Linked DNA regions of Homo sapiens. The protein of the gene in region 2 purifies or fractionates together with the protein of the main gene of each other region. This does not show direct contact. Each region holds a gene or a part of one and is shown on either strand. Other genes may lie near its edges.

The links.
Region 1: the proteins of CDYL (region 2) and ZNF644 purify together in Homo sapiens (affinity purification with mass spectrometry; 2 studies listed by BioGRID and IntAct, with this or other methods). This does not show direct contact.
Region 3: the proteins of CDYL (region 2) and MIER1 purify together in Homo sapiens (co-immunoprecipitation; 4 studies listed by BioGRID and IntAct, with this or other methods). This does not show direct contact.

What each region holds. Positions count from the first base shown.
Region 1 is NC_000001.11:91,011,957-91,019,063, reverse strand, and holds part of ZNF644 (zinc finger protein 644), read left to right. Parts: intron 1-7,107.
Region 2 is NC_000006.12:4,771,341-4,779,440, forward strand, and holds the start of CDYL (chromodomain Y-like protein), read left to right. Parts: upstream 1-5,063; 5' UTR 5,064-5,443; coding exon 5,444-5,467; intron 5,468-8,100.
Region 3 is NC_000001.11:66,927,902-66,935,008, reverse strand, and holds part of MIER1 (mesoderm induction early response protein 1), read right to left. Parts: intron 6,123-7,107; exon of another isoform or gene 6,120-6,122; coding exon of another isoform or gene 6,046-6,119; intron 4,754-6,045; exon of another isoform or gene 4,618-4,753; coding exon of another isoform or gene 4,609-4,617; intron 1-4,608. UniProt on the Homo sapiens protein: Transcriptional repressor regulating the expression of a number of genes including SP1 target genes. Probably functions through recruitment of HDAC1 a histone deacetylase involved in chromatin silencing.

The DNA.
Region 1 (7,107 bases), on a different chromosome or scaffold from region 2:
GGTCATATAAGGTGCTTTTAAATTACTGATTTTTGTTAGTTGATAAGCTGTTTTATAATTTTCAACATTATGTGAGTGGATTTACTTACACTTTCATTTTGTGAAAATTAGAGTCACTTTCAGGTTATTTGTAGTTATAAAGTGGTCTGTCACCTGCCAACCTTAAACATTTTCCAGTTTTAGTTTGTCATTCAAGTTATAAGAGTGTTTTGGTTGAATTGAGACTGTTAATGGGTAGCAGGAGGAGAAAAGAAAGTTTCAAAGAGAATAGAAGTGGTGGGATATCTGCAATCTAGAGAAAGGTCAGGTCCATTTTTTTTCTGTCATCCTAAATATTGTTTTTTAGTGTTACTTATTTAGACCATTTTCTCAGGATGTGATTCTGGAAGGAAAAGTGAATCTTATTCTTGGGAAGGCTTTTCAGTCAGGTCTTAAGACAATTGTAGCTTGCAGCAAATGGAGAAATTGGCATGTTGAGTTATCTAACCCTGATTTTATAGAGCACTTGTTTTAACCATTTTTTAAACTGTTTTCTAAATGTTTTAAATTAGTAACCTTGTAAAATAAAACGAGAATGAAGAGTGGATACTGTAATACTATGGATACATATTCAAATGAGCTTTTATTTACACTTATTAATCTTTCTGGTAGAGAGAATGTCTATTTCGTATATGGAGAATCTGTAAATATTGAGTAAAGTTGTCAGGTATAGCATTGACTGAAGCAGTTCTAGAAGTGGTGTTTTTGATTCAGGTTTATTAGAGGGAAATAAATAGCTGCTGTTAATAGTGCAAGCCGTTTACACCATTGAGTTTTGGGAGATTTGAGAATCATGGAACTGATGCTAGCACTAGCTCACCCTGCTGGTTGGCTAAAAGATTTCTCCTCTTCCCCTTAAGAAACAAACATGAAGATCACAGGAGACCCAGAGGGTAGTAAGACTCTAAATTAAATTCTGTCTTTCTTCAGGGAGAGGAAGTTCCCATGAAAAAGGTGTTTTCTTGTCTCTAAGGCCTTAGTTGCTGCATTATAATTTTTTTTGCAGATCTGCCAAGTTGAACCATGGAGTTACTATCCTTTCTTTTTCTTTCTTTTTGGTTGGGGGACGGAGTCTCGGTCTGTTTCCCAGGCGCGGGTGCAGTGGTGCAATCTTGGCTCACTGCAACCTCTGCCTCTCAGGTTCAAGTGATTCTCCTGTCTCAGCCTCTCAAGTAGCTGGGATTACGGGCGCCGGCCACCACACCTGGCTAATGTTTGTATTTTTAGTAGAGATGGGGTTTCATCATGTTGGCCAGGCTGGTCTCGAACTCCTGACCTCAGGTGATTCACCCGCCTTGGCCTCCCAAAGTGCTGGGATTACAGGCGTGAGCCACCGCACCTGGCAGTAGTTACTATCCTTTTTGAACTTCCTGGGAACTCTTATGTGATTATGGAAAGTTAGTATATTTTTATTCTTTTAATTTCAAGATAAGAAATCCTTTGACAATTGAGAGATGTTAGGAAGAAAAACAGCCCTGTGAGAGTAACTTTCCAGGAGGAAAAAAGCAGAGGATTTCAAGAGTAAGAGGAGGAGGAGCCTGCCAGGGCAGAAGTAGCAGCAGTGCACACTTCTCTTGGTTGGGAGAAAGTGAGACTGGATTAAGATTAGCGTTTCTGGGAGATTTTCTTTCCCCTCTCCTACTAATCTTGGCCCTACCTCTTCTGTCTGCTAGCTGTGGTCTTCCCATTTCATTTGGAATCCTTTGAACTGAGATTTTGTAAGTAAAAATAAAGATAAATGATTTGTTCCTTGAAGCTTAATTCTGTTAGCCTAGATTTTGGTAGAATTGAAGCTGGGTTAGAGTGATGAAGGCAGATTTTATGTGTTAAGCCTTTTGGTATGTGTATCTTTTTTTTAAGTTGAAAATACAGCTTTTAAAATACTTTATATAGGCCGGGTGTGGAGGCTCACACCTGTAATCCCAGCACTTTGGGAGGCCAAGGTGGGTGGATCACTTGAGGTCAGGAGTTTGAGACCAGCCTGGTCAACATGATGAAACCCTGTCTCTACCAAAAATACAAAAATTAGCTGGGCATGGTGGCACGTGCCTGTAGTCCCAGCTACTTGGGAGGCCGAGGCAGGAGAATCACTTGAACCCAGGAGGCAGAGGCTTCAGTGAGCAGAGATGCCGTGCCACTGCACTCTAGCCTGGGTGACAGAGTGAGACCCTGTCTCAAATAAAAAAGACTTTGTTCAAACTCTAGAAACGTAAGTATATTTTGAGCCAAATAGACAACTGAAAATTAAAAATACCTAATAAAGTGTTGATTAAAATTCTTTACACTTTACAAAGCATGTTTACCTGTAGTCTATCAATTATTTTATCTAATTTTTTGAAAAGATTAATATTTTACTTAAAAGTATCTCTTTCATTAGTTTCTTGAGGAAGATATTAAATACAGTCATGTGCAGCATAATGATGTTCTTTGGTCAATAGTGGACTGCATTTACGATGGTGGTCCCATAAGATTGTAATACTGTATTTTTACTGTATTTTATGTTCTATGTTTAGATACACAAATACTAAACAGTTATGTTACAGTTGTGTGTGGTATTCAGTACAATAACATGCTTTACAGGAGCATGTTGTAGCCTAGGAACAATAGGCTATACCAAGTAGCCTAGGTGTGTAAGTAGGCTCTACCATCTAGGTTTGTTTGAGTACACTTTGTGATGTTTGCACAGTGACCAAATTGCCTAAGAATGCATCTCTCAGAATGTACATCCATGCTTAAGTGATGTATGACTGTAAAACTAGTACTTTCAGAGCACCATTTATTGGGGAGGAGAGGGGTAATTCCCAATTTATTGTTGGTTTGTGAAGGTGGGTAAAAGGCTTCACAGAGTTGGAATTAATTGCCTTTTGTTTGCTACTGACTCACTAAATACTTTACACACAGACACACACACACATAGAATCACAATTGCAATTGTAATTATGCATATATAAAGAGGCAGGATATGATAAAGTTTGAAAGTGTAAGCCTTGAAGTAAAATTGACAGGGTTCAGATTTAGCTGTGTGAGCACTAGGCAAGTGGAATTAGTAATTACCATCTTCAAAGAGGTTTAGGGTTGATATTACATAATTCATGTAAAGTCCTTAGCTTTCTGGCATACAATGCTGAGTAAAGTAAGTGTTACCTGTTAGAGTAATAATAGTTATTATTACCATTGTTTAATTATTCTTTCTACATTAACTTGAGATTTTCACCTGTGAGTGATTTGCAGTTGTATACTTTTGCTAATGTCCCATTTTAAGCCATGCCGATAAAGACAAGGTTGTTATAGAGGAAGTGAGAGGTAGGCATCAAAGTGTGCCTTCTCTGATTCTAGCAGCAGAATCTTATAACCAGGTTAAATATTTCAGGAATGCATTCCCAGCACTGTCAGCAGATGAGTAGATACACTTGGGAATGAGTACATTTTAATGAAGTTATTTCCCAGCCAGTGCATTGGTTTGTCTTTGTTATAACATGCTGAATTTCTTCACTCTCCTTTCAATTTTTGACTGTGAGGCCATGTGGTGACTATTAGTAGAGAGAAGAAGGTGAGTGGCTATGCGTATTTGTAATGTACGTATAAACCCAAGATGAGAGTGAGGAGTGGCTGGTAGGTAGCTAGATTGAGGCGGGTGGAATATAATCTTTTCATTGGATAGTCTGAGTTGGGAATTTCCCAAACAGCATTTCCTTTTGCTCTTTTCCTCTCCACACTTTGTTTTGTATATGTCTGTGCTGGTATGGTGTTAAAGTTATCAGTTCCCCCTCTTTAATTTTCTTTCTACCACCAACCTCCTCCTAGCACAAACACGGATTTTAAGCTTATAAGCAAATTTGTCAAAGACAGCTAGTAAAAATAATTTTAGGTTCATTTGAGGAGGGGTACTAGTATGAAATTGTAAGTTTTTCATTTATGCTTGAAAAATACAGCAATTTGGAAAGTGAGGGAGGGGAAGTCACCCATAATCTTATTACCATTATATAATTATTAGTATTAAAGACAGATGACGTTAATTAAGCATCTACTATATTCTTTTAATAATCCTGTGATGTATATATTCCCACTTTACATGTGAGGAAACACATCCACTTAATAATGGAGTAGCCAAGTTTGAACCTAGGTATATCTTGAGAAGGTCTAGAGAGGAGACCTTTCTGTTCTACCTTCCTGTTCTTCTTACATATATATCCTTTTACCTAGTTGTTACACAATTTGTAAGTTTCATCTCCTAGTTTTAAAACTTAGCATTATAAAAACATTTTTCTCCCCCCCCTTATTTCAAGTGGTGTCGTATTGCTCTCATTGTCTATTCATACCACCATATAAAGGCTCTTTGTCTTGGCTGCTGGACATTGGTACAATGATGTTGACCAAAATGGATGCTGCCCTTTACTGAGTGACTAAGATGAAAAAAATCAGGCTTAATCAGAACTAATACTTTATGGGATTTGGATTGCTACAGGTTTAATCATGCTATCTATCCTTGCTGGTGGGACATTTGACTTAGAATTGTATATAAGTAAAATATAGATGAAAAATTGTATAATTTATAGCTATCTGAAAACAACTTTTTTTTAATATTTGAACACTTTGAAATGCCTTACACTTCCTTGTTAAAAATCTTAAAGGGATATTAAAATTAAATGGCACTTAATTACTATTAGTAATTCCTAATATAATATTTAATTCATAAAAGAAAAAAGCTTAATGTTGAATTCTGGCACTCATCGGGAAGATGACATTATATGTTAAGAGATAATTTGTGGGGCATAGTAACTATAGTTAATATTGCATACTTGAAAGTTGCTAGGAGAGTACATTTTAAGTGTTCACACCACAAAATATAACTATGTGAGGTAATGCATGTGTTAATTAGCTAGATTTAACCATTGCATAATTTATATGTATTTCAAAATGTGTTGTACACCATAAATATATACAATTTGTATTTATCAGTTTAAGAAGAAGAAGAAGAAAAAGGTAATTTGTGGGCATTTATAAATAGATTGTATAGGTCAGCACTGCCCAATAGAAATATAAGTTGAGCCACAAATGCAATTTTAGATTTTCTATAGCCACATCAAAAAATAAAATAAATAGGTGAAATTTTATTAATGGATTTTTATTTAACCCAGTATCTAAATACTATTATTTCATCATATAAACATGATTGAACTATTTTACATTTTTTCTTTTTTTAACCATGTTAAGTCTTCAAAATCTGTTAGTATTACATACTTAAAGCACATCTCAATTCAGACTAGCCAGAGTTCAGGTATTCAGTAGCCACATGAAGTTACTGTATTGGACAGTGCAATTACAGATAGTAAGTCCTATGGGGTATAGGGAAAGAATAACATAGAAATTGAACTGAACCGTAAAGGATAGCTGAGAACAGAAAATGCTTGAGAAGAATATTCCCATAAAGAAGTGATAGGAATTAAAACAGCAAATACAGTTTGATACCAGGTAATAGAGTGGCTTGAATCCAGTTTAGGGAATTTGGTTTGGGTGTGTATATGTGTGTGTGTGTGTGTATGTGTGTGTGTGTGTGTGTGTGTGTGTGTGTGAGAGAGAGATTGGAAATATATATTGGAGGGTGCCTAATTCGTGTCTCATACATGAGCACTTGATAAATACTGAATTAACTGGGTGCATTGGCTCATGCCTGTAGTCCCAGCACTATGGGAGGCTGAGGTCGGCAGATCGCCTGAGGTCAGGAGTTTGAGACCAGCTTGGCCAATATGATGAAATATCCCGTCTCTACTGAAAATACAAAAATTAGCTGGGCATGGTGGTGTGCACCTATAATGCCACCTACTTGGGAGGCTGAGGCGGGAGAATTGCTTAAACATGAGAGGCGGAGGTTGCAGTAAGCCAAGATCATGCCACTGCATCCCCACCTGGGCGACAGAGTGAGACTCAGTCTCCAAAAAACAAAAGAAAAAAGATAAATATTGAATTAATATTTAGAGAGAATTAATATGACACTACAGAAAATGCTGGAAAAAACATCCTAACAAAGCCTAGTCGATCTTCAAAAGGGAAAGTGTTTCATTTAGGGAATATTGATGTTCTGTGATTAACAATATGATGGAGATTGATAAAGAAGGATGAGAATTGAGAAAAGGTTTTTAGATTTAGCTATTAATTGGTTACTTGTTTTTAAGTATTTTTTTTAGGTATAACATACAGTGAAGTGCACAAATCTTAAGTACAACTCAGTGAATTTATACATATAAGTATACCTAGGTAACTCCCAGGTAGTGGGAGGTACTGGGTTACACCTGGGGAGAAGAGGATGTAAAAAAAGCACAGACATGAGAATTGTGGAATGCAAGCATTTTCCGTGATTAGAGCCTATTTTAAATGAAATACCCAGATAGAGATGTAGAATATTTTTCTTCACTGATTAAAGGTGCCTTGTGCTCCCTCCTATTAATTTCTCCCTACAGAAGTAACCACTATTTTAACCTCTAACCTCTATCACCATAAATTAGTTTTTGCTTGTTTCTTTTTCTTTTCCTTCCTTTTTTTTTCTTTTGAGACAGGGTCTCAGTCTGTCACCCTAGCTGGAGTGCATTGGCGCAATCTCAGCTCACTGCAGCCTTCACCTCCCAGGCTCAAGCGATCCTCCTCCTTCAGCTTCCTGAGTACCTGGAACTACAGGTGCATGCCATCATGCCTGGCTGATTTTTTTTTTTTTTCTTTCGGTAGTAGAGATAGGGTTTTACCATGTTGCCCGGGCTGGAGTTTTTGTTTCTAAACTTCTTATGGCATATTTGTCCTCCCTCCCAAGGGTAGTGAGAATTGATGCTTGAATCCATCTCTCTTTTCTTCTGTCCTTGTTTGGCATTGTTATGAATTGGGAGGTAAATCAGGTGATATTTGGTACTATGGCCCTTTTTTCCCCCCAGTGACAAAATCAGAGAGGTGCTTCTTAGTGTTCATTAATAGTAATCCTTTAGAGGTTAGTTTTATGACTTGATATTTTGTTTAGAATGCAGAGATTTGAATTTGCCTCCACCGATAACATAGTTGCCTGGCTTGCTGTCATTACAGTAT
Region 2 (8,100 bases):
TGAGCTCAGGTGATCCACCTGCCTTGGCCTCCTAAAGTTTTGGGATTACAGGCGTCAGCCACCACGTCCAGCTGAGTGTTTGCACTTTGAACAAGTCCCAAGGTGATGCCGTTGCTGCTAGTTTGGGGAACCACACTTTGAGAACTTCTACACTAGACAATACTAGTGATTGAAAAAAAATCAAGCCCCACTAAGCGCCTCCAAGTGCTGGTCTGGCCCCAATCTTCCAACTCATTTACACTTTGCTTTAGATTCAACATCCACCTGCTCCTGGGATAATTCTGGGTTCCCCCACTTCTGGTGGGTCTTGTGTTTCTATTTTCCTTACCAGTCAAAATGTCCACACTCATCTCTTGCCTAGTTGTTCTCTCTCTCTCTTTCTCTCTCTGTCTAGAAATGGAAAGGTAAAGACGATACTGGGATGGTCTGACTTGAGAGACAAATGCAATTAATCATCACAATAATTCAAGGGAAAGTTAAACAGTACTTGCTGTTTTTTTCCAGGGATCCAAAATGAGTTAGTTACTGCCTTGGCATAAAGTCAACCAAAATTATGGGAATACCTGTGCCTATTTCCTCTTTATGATTTTTGGTCTTTTTGCTTTCCAAAAATGGGGTAATGTATAAAATTATCAATGAAAAACTTCCTTGCTCTTGCTCATTACTTTAATCAAAAAAAGTTCAACAAGTACATATTACAAGGATTCTCTTGGTAGAACACCATTAGCTAAATAGAAAAAGGAACCGTACTTAAACACTAAATCTAGTTGAAAAAGCAAATGATCCTTAATTGTAGATTGATGAGCTCCGGCCAGTGATGGTATCACAGCCTAAGATGAAATTGGTGAAATCAAATGTTAAGAGGTCTCAGAATTGGCATCACGAGGGCAAAGAGATGAAACAACTAGTGATATCTGGCCAAGGAGCAGCAGTGTGGCAGCTGGCTACTGGCTTCTATATGAAAGAGAGAAATGGTACCTACCTGGGACCAACATGGAGGGCGGCAGGGAGAGGCTGCCCCTCGAAATGGGGAAACTGACTGTTTGGGCAGGGAAGGCAACAGTGACTGAAAAAAGGAATCAGCTGTTATTGGTTGACCAGAAAAAGGTACTGGTATCCACTCTAAGCTTTTAGGGAAGGAAGAACTGGTTGGCTCCCAGTTCAGACAAGGCCCCTAACATCTGAATTAATCTTATAAATGGTTCTGTATGCTTCTTTCTTTTGGGTCTCAGGTTTAAAATGTTCTTTCTTTTGAGTGGGTGATTGAGATGGAAATTCCACCAAGTTTTCTGGAGTAGATACTCTATGACAAGAACGGCATTTAATTTCCCTTCAGCCACTGTGGGTTTAAAACCAACAAACTTAGGTCGCATCTTCATAAAAATCACAATTAAATTTTGGGTTATGGAGGAGGTAACCAGGATAGAATATGCTTTGGGGGTACAAAACTGTTGAAGGGAATCATTATCAGTAGCTTTTCACAGCTACCCAACCATAAAACGCCTTTGGCTCTGAGAATAGTAGTAGCTAGATTTTGGCTTCTTTTGTTTTTTTCTGTCCCATCCCCCATCTCCCCTTGGATGCCTTTGGATTCAAATGTAGATGAAATGCAGATTCTTGGGAGAAAGGAAGACATGCCTGGTTTGGCTGGTGATTGGGAAAAGAGGAGGATCTCAGATTTCAGGTTTTAGTTATCATTCTCCCGAGATGGGAAGAGGCTGTGATTCTTGATCTGAAGAGTCTTATCGTCGGTAGAACTTGCCATCGATGATCAATTGTTTGGATTTGAGGAGGAGAGAATTGAATTATGTTGGCCTACAACAACGGGAGCAGGTCAGGTAAGAATCGTTTATTGCTGGTAGACGTGTCTTTTAATCATGTGTGTATATCGTCTCTCTTGTTGACCACTTCTCTAATCTTTTAAGAGTCATATGTCTTACTAGTGCATGGTATTGTGCTGTATGTATTTTTGCTGCAATCTTCCCGGTGTGCTTAGGGGATGTGATTTCACTTTTATTCTTAAGCCACTGAGAAAATAATAGCACCCACACACGTGGTCATGGAAACTACAGAACTTCACTGTTTCATAAAAGGTGGTGGAAATTCCAAGTCATTAAATAATCTTGGGCATATTTACTTCTGCTATGAGTGCTGGTAAAATGTTTATATAAAAAAGTGACGGAGGAAAGCAAAGTTTGCTTAAAAGTAAGACAAATTGAACGAATGAGGTTAAAATATATATGTATATATAAGCAAAATAGCATTCCATAAATCAGTGAGTTTTAAATGGAGGGCAGATGAAAGGAACAAAGTGGACAATTGAGAACTTCCTCAATTTCTCAGTCGCTAGGTGGATACCCATCTCCTTCGCCAGTGGAAGCCAACTGTCAGAGTGGAGAGGTGGTTGGAACTTAGGAGTATGGCTCACTCCTGCTTTGTTTTAGAGGCTACTGGTGGTTACTCTTAATGTTGTAGACTAAGGATAGCAGCATAAACATTCCAGATTGTCAAGATTGAAAAGCTACGTAAATTGACAAAGGTCTATGTAAATTGACATTTTTGAGTTGCCTTTTTGAGGCTATAATTCTTCCCCTTTTTGTTTCCACAATGGGGAAAATCGCCTTACTAGCTCAATATCTGGATATGTTTGTTGTGGATGTCTATGTTCCTTTCTTTCCCTCTCCTGGGCAACAATGGCAGTTTTGGAGACTCCTTGGAGACCACAGTACCATTACGCACATGGTGGAGCCCCTTGTGAATGCCTAAGCTTGTGGATGTTCTGAAGGGGGCAATAATTGGAGTAATGGTCATGGCGAGAAGTGCTTGTATTTGTATTGGTCCATCATTGCATAATAGGCTTATATGTTATATGTATCTATTTCCTATTGAGGATCTCTTTTTTACAGTTGATTTTTCTTGAGGGATTTTAAACTATCACCTGCCAGTATTTGAGCGCTTGCCGAAGTGTGCACTCAATGCTTTGAGATTTCCCAAATGTATAAAATCCTAGTCCTTGCCTTCAAGGAACTTACAACTTTTGTTGATAAATTGGTAAACCTAGAGAGAAGGCAACAATGAAATGCAGCATATAATGGAAATGCTAAGTGAGAGGAAAGAGGCGCTGTTTGGAGGAGGGAGAGGGAATTGGCTGGGCCATCAGGGAAAGAGGCAGAGCTTGAGGCGCCTTGACCAGTTGATGAAGTGGTGGCTTTAATTTGCGATTCTTGTGCAAACATTTGATAATGGGAATTGGATGTGTAGGTATTGGGCTTTCTCGTGGACACTGAAATTCCATTCATTGAACAACACCTTATTTCCTGTATAGAGAATGGTGCTAGGGGCCAGCGTCAAATTTGAAGATGAAGTCTGACTGAAGGTCATCGTTTGGAGTTGGGGTGGGGTGAAGAGTAGACAAACCTTAAAATACAGAGACGAGTGCTGCAGTGAGCACGCGTGAGTGCTTAGGCAGCGCTTGAAGAGGGAGTTACCGATTTGGCCCTGGAAGTCAGGAAGGCTATCCTTTTAAGGTGATCCCTGAGCTGGGAGTTTGTTTCAAACGGTGGGGACCGCAGGTAGAAGCACCGCTTAAGGGGAACGGCGATTCGACTCGCAGTGACTTAAGGGTTGGCGTGGTGCTTGTTCCTGGGCGTGGGGAGGACAGGAAACCGCGGGGTCTGTGAGACGCCCCGTGGTTGTTGAAACGCTGTTGGGGGGCACAAACGAATAGGGCTTTAGGAAGAAAACTGGTGGGAGGAGCCTTGTGGCTCCAAGGTAGGTTAGGAACTGGAGCGAGATGGAGCACGGAGGAGTGAGGCGGCCCGAAGGATGCCCGGGGAGACATGGAGGAACTGGCGAGGGCTTCCCGATGCAGGGCCTGGGGGAGAGGGTGAACTAATGCCTCTGCAGTGCCCCGTGGGGAAGTTCCGCATACTCGGCCAGAGTGATCGGAGTTGGCGGCTGTCTGGGGGAGTTGGGTCAGGAAGCCCCTTCTTTCGCCACCGATGGGGCACGTCCAGGGCCCGGCAGGTGTGCCCTGGCAGTAGATCTTCCCTGGGAAGTGGAGCGCGGGCCAGCCCTCGCTGTTCTGAGCGAGGGCCTGTCGTGTAGTCCACACCGTTCCGCGAAAGGAACCACCATTGACAGCCTCGTTCGATTAGAACCCGGACCTCCCTGGAATCCAGACTCGGTCCCTTCCCAGCTGCGCTTCGGAGGAGGCGGACGCTCCGAGAGGAACCCAGAGGCCTGGCGTGGGGGGAGCTGCGGGCAGAGCGGAGGCAGCCGCGCCCTCGCGCCGCCCTCCGCCGCGCCCGGCTCCCGCCCCCCGGATCCCACCCCCGGCCTGCCGCGGAGCCAGCGTGCCAGCCGGAGCTCGCCGGGCCACCCCGCGGGGCGCGCGGCCCGGGCTCCGGGTCTTGGCGGCGGCCGGTGGGGCGGGCATGGGGTGGGGTGGGTGCTCCACCTGGCCACGCCGCCGGCCCTTCGCGGGCTGGCCCGGCCCCGGACGGGCGGGCGCACGGAGGCCGCCTCTTGGGCTCCTCCTGGAGGGAGGCGCGCGGTAGACGGCGCGGCCGCTGCCGTCGGGGCGGTGGGCTCCAGACGCGGGCCGGCTCGCTCGCATGGTTCCCTGCCCCATCTCGGGTCCGTCGCTGCCCGTCCTGGTGTGCACAACCGCGCTGCGCCTCGAACCTCGAGGTCCAGGTCCCGCCTGCCCTGGGCCGGGCCGCAAGCGCCCACGTCGAGGCGGGCTGGGGGGCGGTGCCGCGGGCCAGGCCGACCCCGCAAGCGGGACTGGGGAAGTCGGAGCCCCGCCCACCACCCCGCCCCCCGCGCTCGCGGCCCCGCCCCCGACTGCCCCGCTCCTCCCCTTCCTGCCGGCTCGCTCCCGGCCCCGCCGGCCGCCCGCCTCGGCCCCGAGCGGAGCCCACTGCTCCCCTCGGCTGCCCCGCCCCGCCGCCGCCCCGCCCCTCCCGCGCGGGCGGCCCGAAAACCCGGAGCGCGGGAGCGCGGCTCCGCAGGGCCGGGCGGCCGCACTGGGCATGCTCAGTAGCCGGGGCAGGTTTTTTGGTCGCAAGTAGGAAGCTTTCTGCACTACACCGGAGAGGGGAGCCGCGATCCGGCCGCGCCGCCCGCACGCCGCCGCGCCCGCCCCAGCCCGCCCGGCCCCGCGGCGGGGCGCGATGAGCCCGAGCGCGAGCCGGCCCGCCGGGGAGTGAGCGCGGGGCGCCCAGGGCGCGTTGCGTAGCTGCTCCTGCGCACAACCCCGCCGCGCCGCCGGCCCGCACTGGCCGCGGAGTGCAAGAGGCTCGTCCGTGCCCAGCGCCCGGCCGGCCGCGGGAGCAGGAAGCGCAGGCCACGCAGGACCCAACTGAAACAAAGTGTCGGCCGCCCGGCGCCGGCGCCCGCCCCGACCCTGCCCCTCCCGCCCGCAACTCCGCCGCCCACCATGGCTTCCGAGGAGCTGTACGAGGTACCTCCCCTCCCCCCGGCCTCGGGCCGCCCCCCGCCCGCCGCCCCTCCCGGCCCGGCCGCGCCGCCCGACGGCCCCGCTCGCCGCCCGCGCCCGCCGCGTCCCCTCCCCCGCCGCGGCCGCAGTTTGCTGGACGGGAAATGTGTGTGAGGGGAGCCCGAGCCTCCGTTCCGAGGGGCCCCGGCCGGGGGGTCCTGAAGTTGCCGGGCGTGGGGTGGGGGGGGGGGTCCCAGCCGTGGGGAAGTGGTGCTGACACAAGTGACTTGCTCGGACTGAGCTCAAAGTGCTCTTGGCGTGGGTCGTGGAAGTGGTGCCTCCGTTGCCGCTCGGCGGGGACCGTGGGCGGTACGGGGGGTGGGGTGTGGGGGGGTTTCTGGATCATTTGATAAAGCATTTGGGAGAGGGTTTTGCCCCTGGTCGGGGGGTGGCGGGGAGAAGACCGGTGCAAACGCTTTCGACTTTGCTGTTCGCCAAAGCGATGCAAAATCTCGCACCGAAAATGCTAAACGTTGACCACATGCTTTAATTAGGTTAGCATTGTGGCCAGAGCCAGGAAATTTAAATTTAACGCTGATACACCGTCATTCATTTGCGCCGCAGCGTTGCAAATGAGAAGGGCATAGCCAGAACTGTAAGTTCTGGTCGATGGGTTTAAACCAGCTTCAAGTTTGAGAGTTACCAATTTGGATCTTTAGACATGTTTTGTATGTCTCCATGTAACTTCTTTTGACGTATTTCAAAGTAGACTTCCTGGGAGTACAGAAGTTTGGAAGGCTTTCTGTTCTTCTGGATAAATGATTCTCTTGTTTCACATGTATTTATAAATAAGTTCCTAAGAGACTTAAAACTTGCGAAGACTCTCTAGACTCACCTTTATGATGCGTTTAGGGACCTGGGTGTTGAGGGACTTAAGGAAGCATCTGTAACAAGTAGAGCCCTGTGGCCCCAGGGATCCTTTCAGTTGTCTTCTCTTATGGGCGTATTATTGCTGTTGGCATAGAATAGAGCTTTGTTGTCTGCGATGTTAGTCTTCTAGCAACTTTTTTGTTGCTTTTTAAGAGCAAGTGTTTGCAGAAGTTCTCAGGAGGAAGCTGCCATCTGTAGAATTAAGGGTAAGGTTGTTGCTTCTCCTTACATTGTATGTGGTCAGTATACCTTAGCTGGTACTGAAAATGTTCCATTCTTTTCAACCATTTTACACATTAGCTGTGCCCCGCTGTATTCAGGATACTATTTTAGGTCATTTGGGGATGTAAAAGAAGAAAAATCTCCCTGTTCTCAGGAGCTTTCCTTCTAGGAAGGAAAGTGTTGTGTGTCTGGAAGACACAGAAATGGAGGCTAGGATGTTTGAGGTTGAGGTCTTCCAGGTGAAGTCTGTACAGGGGGAAGTACATAGCATGAGGGTATGGGGGATTTTAGTTTCTACATTAGATCATTCTTTGGTTGTTTAGTCATGAGTGTTCACTCTTGGCATTTGCTTTTATGAGTATGATTACATAATCAGTTCCATCAGTGGATGAGAGTAGCACCTTATACGTAAGTTGTATCCTATGTGTGTAAGAATGATTCTGAAGACAGCACATTTCCCATTAGTATATTATGAACTAAGTTTAGTTCCTTCTGTGCTTATTCTATATCTTCAGGTTTCTGTTCCTAACAGAAGTTATTAATGAGTAACATTTTGTACTAAGTTTGTGTTCATTTAACGTTTATTGAATGCTTGCCATATGGAGGTTTCATGGGGAAATACTGAGGTGTGAGAATGGTTCATGCTTTCAAGGAGTGTCTGTTGGGGAGGAAGTAAGTATATTGCAAATAAATGATACACCTGCACAATTGAACTTTTGATTCTGAGTTTTATTTTAGTTTTGGAAAAAAAGGTATTATAGAAGTATAGTTCAGGTGATAAATTTAAGTATGTGTAGTAAATATGTAGTGGTCAGTATCTTTCAAGGCAAAATTTGTAACTTTTCTTTTACTTGTAGGCAACACTGTGACTATGTTACCATTGAAAGTTGACATTGAAAGTTTTGCATGGCAGTTGAGAGCCTAGATTTGGAGTCAGACAACCCAGTTAGTGACTTCCAACTCTATCACCTTGGGTAAATTAGCCTTGAAAGCTCAGTTTCCTCATCTGTGAAATTGGGATCAGTGTTTCCCTTATAGAGCTATGAAGTTTACATGAGAACATATGTAAAGCCCACCCTAAAATTCCCATGGCAAGCACCCAGTAAGTGATGATGATTGTATGGTAACTGGCTTAAAATGCCTCCCTGAAACCTGGTTTTGTTTCTAAAGGTATAGAGTTGTATTGTTTTCATAAAGGCAGTATTATCTGTAGGGCAGAAGTGATACGCAATTGTAAATGAACGCGATAGTCTGACAAGGCTGGGAAAGACACTAAGATGATGTTTTGTGGCCAAGTCAAGGGTTGTTAGTTGCCTTGTTTTGTCCAGTTCTGCCTAAACTGAAATAGAAGTTTTCTGTTTGGCCTCAGGCTCCACAAATCTAGAGGGATATATTGACAGGAGGAAATGTGAAGTCTTGCTTCTTTGAACTCACATGGTCTGGTAGGAGGACAGGTCTGCAGTAACTGGGAACTTGGGTGAGTTACCCAACTGCTGAGCCTTGGT
Region 3 (7,107 bases), on a different chromosome or scaffold from region 2:
ACAATTCTACCACCATTTCTTTTAAGTATTGCCGTCATCTACTTAGTTATGTAGACTCTAAGTCAGAGATTCTCACAGCAATGGAGATGGGGATAGAAGCCTGGAAAGAGGGGTCCTACTTTAGGGTGAAAGATGGTTACCGTGCCAAGGGCTGGCTCACCATCCCTCTCCTCCAATAAAATTAAGTTACTTAACTTTGTTATTACTCTCAGGAATTCTGGGGTATAAAAAGGTTAAGAATGTACTGAAATTAAAATTAGCAATTTACTACAGTATTAATAATTCAGAAGTAAAATGATATCATAGAAAATAAGGACTGGGAACAGTGGCACACGCCTATAATCCCAGCACAAGACAGGAGGATCACTTAAGGCCAGAAGCTCGAGACCAGTCTGATCAACATATCGAGACCCTGTCTCCACAAAAAAAAAAAAAAGCCGGGCATGATGGCACATGCCTATAGTCCCAGCTACTTGAGAGGCTCTGAGGGAAGGATTGATCACCTGAGCCCAGGAGTTTGAGGTTGTAGTGAGCTATGATTTGCGCCACTGCACTCCAGCCTGGGCAACAGAGAGAGACCCTGTCTCAAAAAAAAAAAAAAAAGAAAGAAAGAAAAAGAAAATAAGCACTAGGAATCTAGGAATACAGAAGGCTGGGTTCCAGTCTAAACTGTGCCATAGATGAATTGCACGACCTAGGACAAACTACGTAAACTCTCTGCTCACTTTCATTTTCTCTATGATCAAAAGATTTAGATTTCTTCAAGACCTAACTTTACTTTTATTATAAATTGCTCTAGAAACCTAACACTACTAAGGAGTATGCAGCTAAATGCATGGGATATGTTTAAATTTATTTTTTTAAATCTAGGACTGTTAAAAAAATCTCAATTTGCAAAAACAATTTTTTGGGGTGCTACTTCATGAATTTCATACCTACATAATAAGTTATTGTTCTAAGCCACAGAATAAGACAAACAGAACAAGCCCCAAGCAATGACTGGTACTTGAACAATTTAATCACTGCAATGAATTTTGAATGAACATCAAGCCAGGCAGGCATTTCTAGATAGCTGATTACTTTTCATAAAGACATGCTTAAGCTTCAATGGCAGTGTTTTATTTCTGAATTATTTAGAAAACTGGTTAGTCTCACTTACCAGAATTATCTTAAAGTAATTCACTTGTTTCTCCCACCAAACCTTTCCCACCTATTAAAGTACCCTAACTCTTAACTGCCAATGAATTAAGATTTTTAGGACTCTCACGCACTGGTGATCTTGACTACTTTTAAAATCTTAATAGCTCTGAAGTATAAACATGAAAAAAAATTCATTATTAGTGTCGAGAATTATTTGAAGCTTAAATTCACTGCAGTGAAACACATTTTGCTTAGAGTAGAAATTAATGTTTTCATAAGTAACATTTAACATAATCCTTCGTTAAAAAAATCCAAATACACTCAAAAAATACTAAGCAAGGAGTCCATTTTAAAGAGAAATGGATAGGTGTGAAAGTGAATAAACAGATTATATACCCTCTTTGAAAGTACTAAAATACTTAAATAGAAAGAAGCAAATCCATTAATTTTCTCTTTATATCACAGAAATGTGGCCTAGGTGAAAAGACAGGTCTTGAATTGTCCATGGATTTTTTTCCTTGAGAAGAAAGTCCCTTACGTGTTTACAAACGCTAAAATACAAGACAAATTGTTCGTTCCCAAAGGTCCCTAGTACATTCCTTATAAAACCCAAAGGATTAACTATTTCTTCCTCTCATTTTTTCTCTCATTTTCCTCTTATTTTTGCAGTTAGTAAAACTGCAACTATCCTGTAATTTCCTTCAAGTGTGACTAGGAGAGCGTCCTTTTAGAAGGTTGGTAAATAATTTTAAGGGATAATAAGCAATGAGAAATATTGCCAAAAAGTATTAAGCAAGGGAGCATATGCTATTTATTCTAAGTACATTAAATACGGCTTTAATGTTATCACAACTGAAGAACCAATATATACTTCCTATTATGGACTAAGATAATCAGATCAAATATAAAAAATTAGTATATCCTATTCTCATCTAAAGCACTTTCTATTCAAGAATTAAATATTTTTCTGGAAAAACATGGTCAGGGTCATGCTCTTGTAGGAAGCATCAATTTTTTTTTTTAAAAGCCCAGAAGCATAATACCTACATTTTTCTCTGGAGACATACTTCTTCAATAACCTGTTTTCCCCCTCAGATTTAACAAATAGATATATACTGTTGCTTTGCACTTACTGTTACTTCACAAGCTATCCTTAAATCCTCAGATTTATTTGATCAAAAGCACAATAATTCAGCATCTGGATTATTTAATCACATGCTTTTATATTGGCTTCATAAAGAATGAATCTACTGAGAGCTCAAAGTAAAAGCCAACCAAGCATTTCTCCTTTGTCTAATTGTTTAAAACCACTGGTCTCAAAAATCGTCATAATTATTCAAGTATTGAGGCCAGGAAAACTATAAATCAATTGTACTTTTCACTTCTTCACCTGTCTTAGATTTTTTTGTAGGACACAGATCACGAAAGTTCCTCTAACTCTTCCCCAATTCACTATACATGAAACTATCTACAAGTAACTGAAGAATATAGAAGATAAATTGTTTAAAGATACCAGGTCATTAAATAAACACTAAAAACCAAATAAAAACAAAATTCCAGTTCTTTCCTTCTTGCAGTTGAACAATCCATGCGTTCCCACAAAACATTCCATTCTCCAACTGATAAAATATTTAAGAAAACTAAAACATACATTAGAAAATATTAGGAAATGATTAGTGAATCAAAATATTTTTTTCCTTTATCTTACAATAACGCAACCATCTTTAATTTTTAAAACAAAAAAGTTAACATAATTTCTTTTACATATTAGATTTTTTAGTTCCCTCGGCAATAAAATTTATTTTTTAAAAACACAGAAATTTTAAATTTAAGTTTTTTAACTTAAATTTCTCTGTATAAGCTATTTTCCTTCAGTAATATCTTGCCTTAGTATATGACTACACACCTCAAAGCTCAAACCATCCTGAGCAACACCATGAAAGAAGAAACCACATTACCTATGTAGCACATTGCTGCTTACCCGATATTCACTGAAAGGGGTCCACTGAAGACACTAACTGACAAAATGTATAAATCCAGCTACACACAACTCCTTAAACATGAAGGAAACAAACACTTAAGAATAAGAACCTCACCAGGACTAAAATCCAGGTACCGATTCTCAGTCTACTGGAACAAACGCAGTCACATTTTGGGGAAACAGAAAGTACTACGTTCTCCAATTCATGTGCCTGGAAATACAATTCTTTAACCACCAAGAGCAAAAGAAATGAAAATAAATCTAAGATCTAAATTTAGTTGTAAATTAGAGATATTGAATGTTTTAAAAAGAATACTCGCAGCAAACAGTCCTGTCTGCTACAGCAAAATCTCACCCTCCTTCCTAAATCTGTTTTGGGGTGCCTGTGAAACCATGAAAATGGCAATTCAAACAAGAGAAATGCCTTATCAATCAAAATTTACAGTGGCTTATTTCAAAGGAGTCATAAAAAAAATCCAAATACATCATCTCGAACTCTCAGGAATAAAGAATACTGAAATTCTTCCACGGGTAAGGAAAAACGGAAACAAAACAAATCCCACAAAACTTCAGATATTTTAAACATTTTTTAAACTTCCAGTTATTTAAAGTTCCAGTAGCGTATACTTAGTTCCGATTAATAAATCAACAGCAGTTGTATGCCCGCCAACTGCGGCCCAAATATGTAAAATCAAAAAAAGGGGCTTTAGGAACTTGTTTACTATAAAACGAGCAAAAAGAAACAAGAAAAAGCTTCTCCAATGAAAGAAAAATTAGAAGAGAAAGAAGACAAGAATAGGTAGCCTTGATTTGGAAAGGGGGTGGGGGGAAGCCTGGAAAGTGAAGGTGGTGGGGGGAGGTGGAAAAGCAGCTCAGAGGTTGTACCTTGGGGAGCGGGAGATGGAACTGTCTGGATAAATGGGCAGACTCCCCCCAACCTGGAGGGCTGGATTGCGGCTGGCCAGATTAATTTATCCACTCTCATTTTACCACGATCATGAAAATTACAGAGTTAATCAAAGGCCGTCAGCCTTACGTTTTCCCCACTAACACAGACTGGATGTCAGTCGCAAATGGATGGGGGTGACGCGGAAGGGCGCAACAGCATCTCGGTTAGGAAGGGAAAAAACTTCGCAAGAGGAAGCAGCAGCTTCTCTCCTGGCCCCTAGCACCGGCCGGCGAAGTTGCGCCACAGGCACCCCTTCCCCGGCGGGCGCCCCCTCCCCCTCGCACCGCACTACTACGCTGCACTACCCTTCAAACTGCCCCCGAAGTCCAAGTACGCCTCCGCTTCCTCCTACCCCCGGACCCATCCCAACTAAGTTCCAGGCGAAGCTCCCGCCCAGAGAATGGCCTGTTCCGGACAACAGGTGGGCAGCGGCGCCAGCAGGGCCGGGCCTCTCCTGGCCAGGCCCACTCCACTCCTCCCCGGCCCAGGGCCGGGGGCGCCCGGCTCCGGGACAGGGAGGGGGAGCTCGCTCCCTTACCTCCGCCATATTTGCCGTACTGCCGGGTCACATCTCCGCGGCGGCCGCAGCTGGGTCACGGCCAGAACCCGGATGTGAGACTCAGCAACGGGACTCCGGCCGCTGCCGTCTCTGCCGCTCCCGCCGCCACTGCCTCGGCGGGAACGCGCAGGAGCCGCCCGAGCGCGCCCACCACACCCCACTCCGCCCCCTCGCGGCGCCCCGGCTGGGCTGGACTGGAGGGAAAAGACCAGCGAGCACGCGCCGGAGCAGGGGCGCGCGCGCGGCCCCGCGGCCAGCCCTCCCCGGGAAGAGCGGAGGGGGCGGAGTCAAGGTGGGTGTGGGAGGAGGTGGGCAACCGCGCGGGGCGCTTCGCTGGCTCCAGCTGATCCGCCACTCCAGGCGGAGGGGGTTGTCTACGGATCAGAGAGGTCAAGGAACAGTGCCAAAGGAGTCACATCCAGCATTGACACAGCAGAGGAAAAATACGTAATATTTTACATGTAGGTCGTTTTTGAAATGCATTTGCTGAAAAACGGATGTTGCTGTGATGCAACGGCGGCAAGAACTGTGCTTTGAAAGCGGTTATGCCTTGACAAATATTTCTCCATCAGTAGATTCCCGACAGGAAATGTAAAATTCTATATCCCCAAATCTCTAGAGAGGTCAGAGCAAAAATTAATGGAAGGGGTTATGATAGGCAGTCCGCCATCCTCATGTCATTTGCGTTTTCTCACACACTTCTGTCATGCCGGTAGCAACACAGTTATGTACTGAATTTTGCACAACTAGACAAAATTTAAAATACTGAAAATTGACTGTTTTATGGATATCATCTATTTAGTAGCATGGAGGGAGAACCTACTTATTTGCAATGCCTGAAATGCCTGTAACTTGAAAGTTTATTTTAATGTATTGGCCTACAGCTGCCAATTGGCCGTGATGCCAATGCTGATGATGGCCAGAACCAATGATTTCAAAGTAACTAACATGTTTCACTTCCATTATACTAAGGCACATACTGAATAACACAAAGGTGACATTAAAACAGTCACTAACATATTTTACTAAACCAGTTTGAAAGTCTTTATTTCAAAAGACTGGGATTTTTTTCCTAATCTTCAAGGGTTCCTCTTAATGCAGTTTCAAAAGTGGCTACCAAAATCAACCATTTAAATACGAGAATTATTCATTCCTTCCAAATAATGTGAACCAATACTACATTGCATAAATGTGTACATATACAATTTTTCTTAAAGTTAATACTTAACTTATAATGCAATATAGGGGAGGCTATTAAATTATTTATATTCCCTTAAAATTCTAGACTCTATCAAGCATTTTCCTATTTCCAAAGATTCAATGTTAATTTGAAACTGTTATGTCCAATAATAATCTGTGCATGAATAAACTGCATTTACAGATATATGAAGTAGCTGCTAAGTGAAAGGACATTACCTGGTAATTTGACAGGAAAAGAGTCCACAGACAGTCTGTAAACCAATTAAACATAAACATCTGATGCACATTTTCTACTGAAAGAAAAGCAAGGGAAAGAAGAGAAAGGAAAACTTTAAGGTTCCCAAATCTACAAACAATTTTTACCATTAACTGTACTGTACAGTATTTTCATTTTATTTTTTAGAAAACTTATATAAAAGTGTTTTTCAGGATTCCTTGGGGGAATAAATATTTTAGCAGAGGTATATAGTTTCTAATAGTTACCCTGTTGAATTATGTCAATCCTCTGGACTTGAAATAAAAATGACTTTTTAAAAGTGTCAGTTCATATCCAAATAGTTTTCAATCAATACACTTAATGAAAAGAGCTGAAGGCAAAGAACAATGGATATACATGGACCTGAGGTGGGTACAGACACAATTAGGGGCCTAGAGGTACAAACTCAGGCTTTATACCATGGAGATGAAGGAGGGTTTTCCATTAACATATGAAAGCTAATTTATGAAATTTGGCTACCAAAGGAAAATTAAAAGTGTTACAATACAAGGTACAGAAATAACTTGCTTAAGTACACTGAATCTTTGATTCTTCAGTTAAACTACCAACAGAAATCCCAACTATGATAAAGAGCAGGGGATCATAGTCTATTAACCTACTGAATGAATCCTAAACTTGTCAGGAAAATGGAAGTCTGAAACATTTCTGAATGGGTATCTATCTTACTGTTAAATAACTCTTTAAGTTTATTAATATTGTGTATCAATATTACTAGTTTTAAATGGTATTATTATTATTGAGGGAAAAAAACTCTCTACATTTTTCCCCTTCCCCTTTTTATAAATGTGGATTCAGTGGGTTTTTTAGGTTCAGATATTATAAAAAAGAAACAGCTCTAATACTGCAATTCATAGGTAACACATTACCACTGAATTCAGTATCCTTCCACTATTATTTTATTTTAGTGATACACCTAACTGTAAAATTTTCAGGAGCCACCTTACGGAATGAAAAGTCTTTCTCAAAACGCTTACTTACCCTCTTCAGTATTAAATATATAA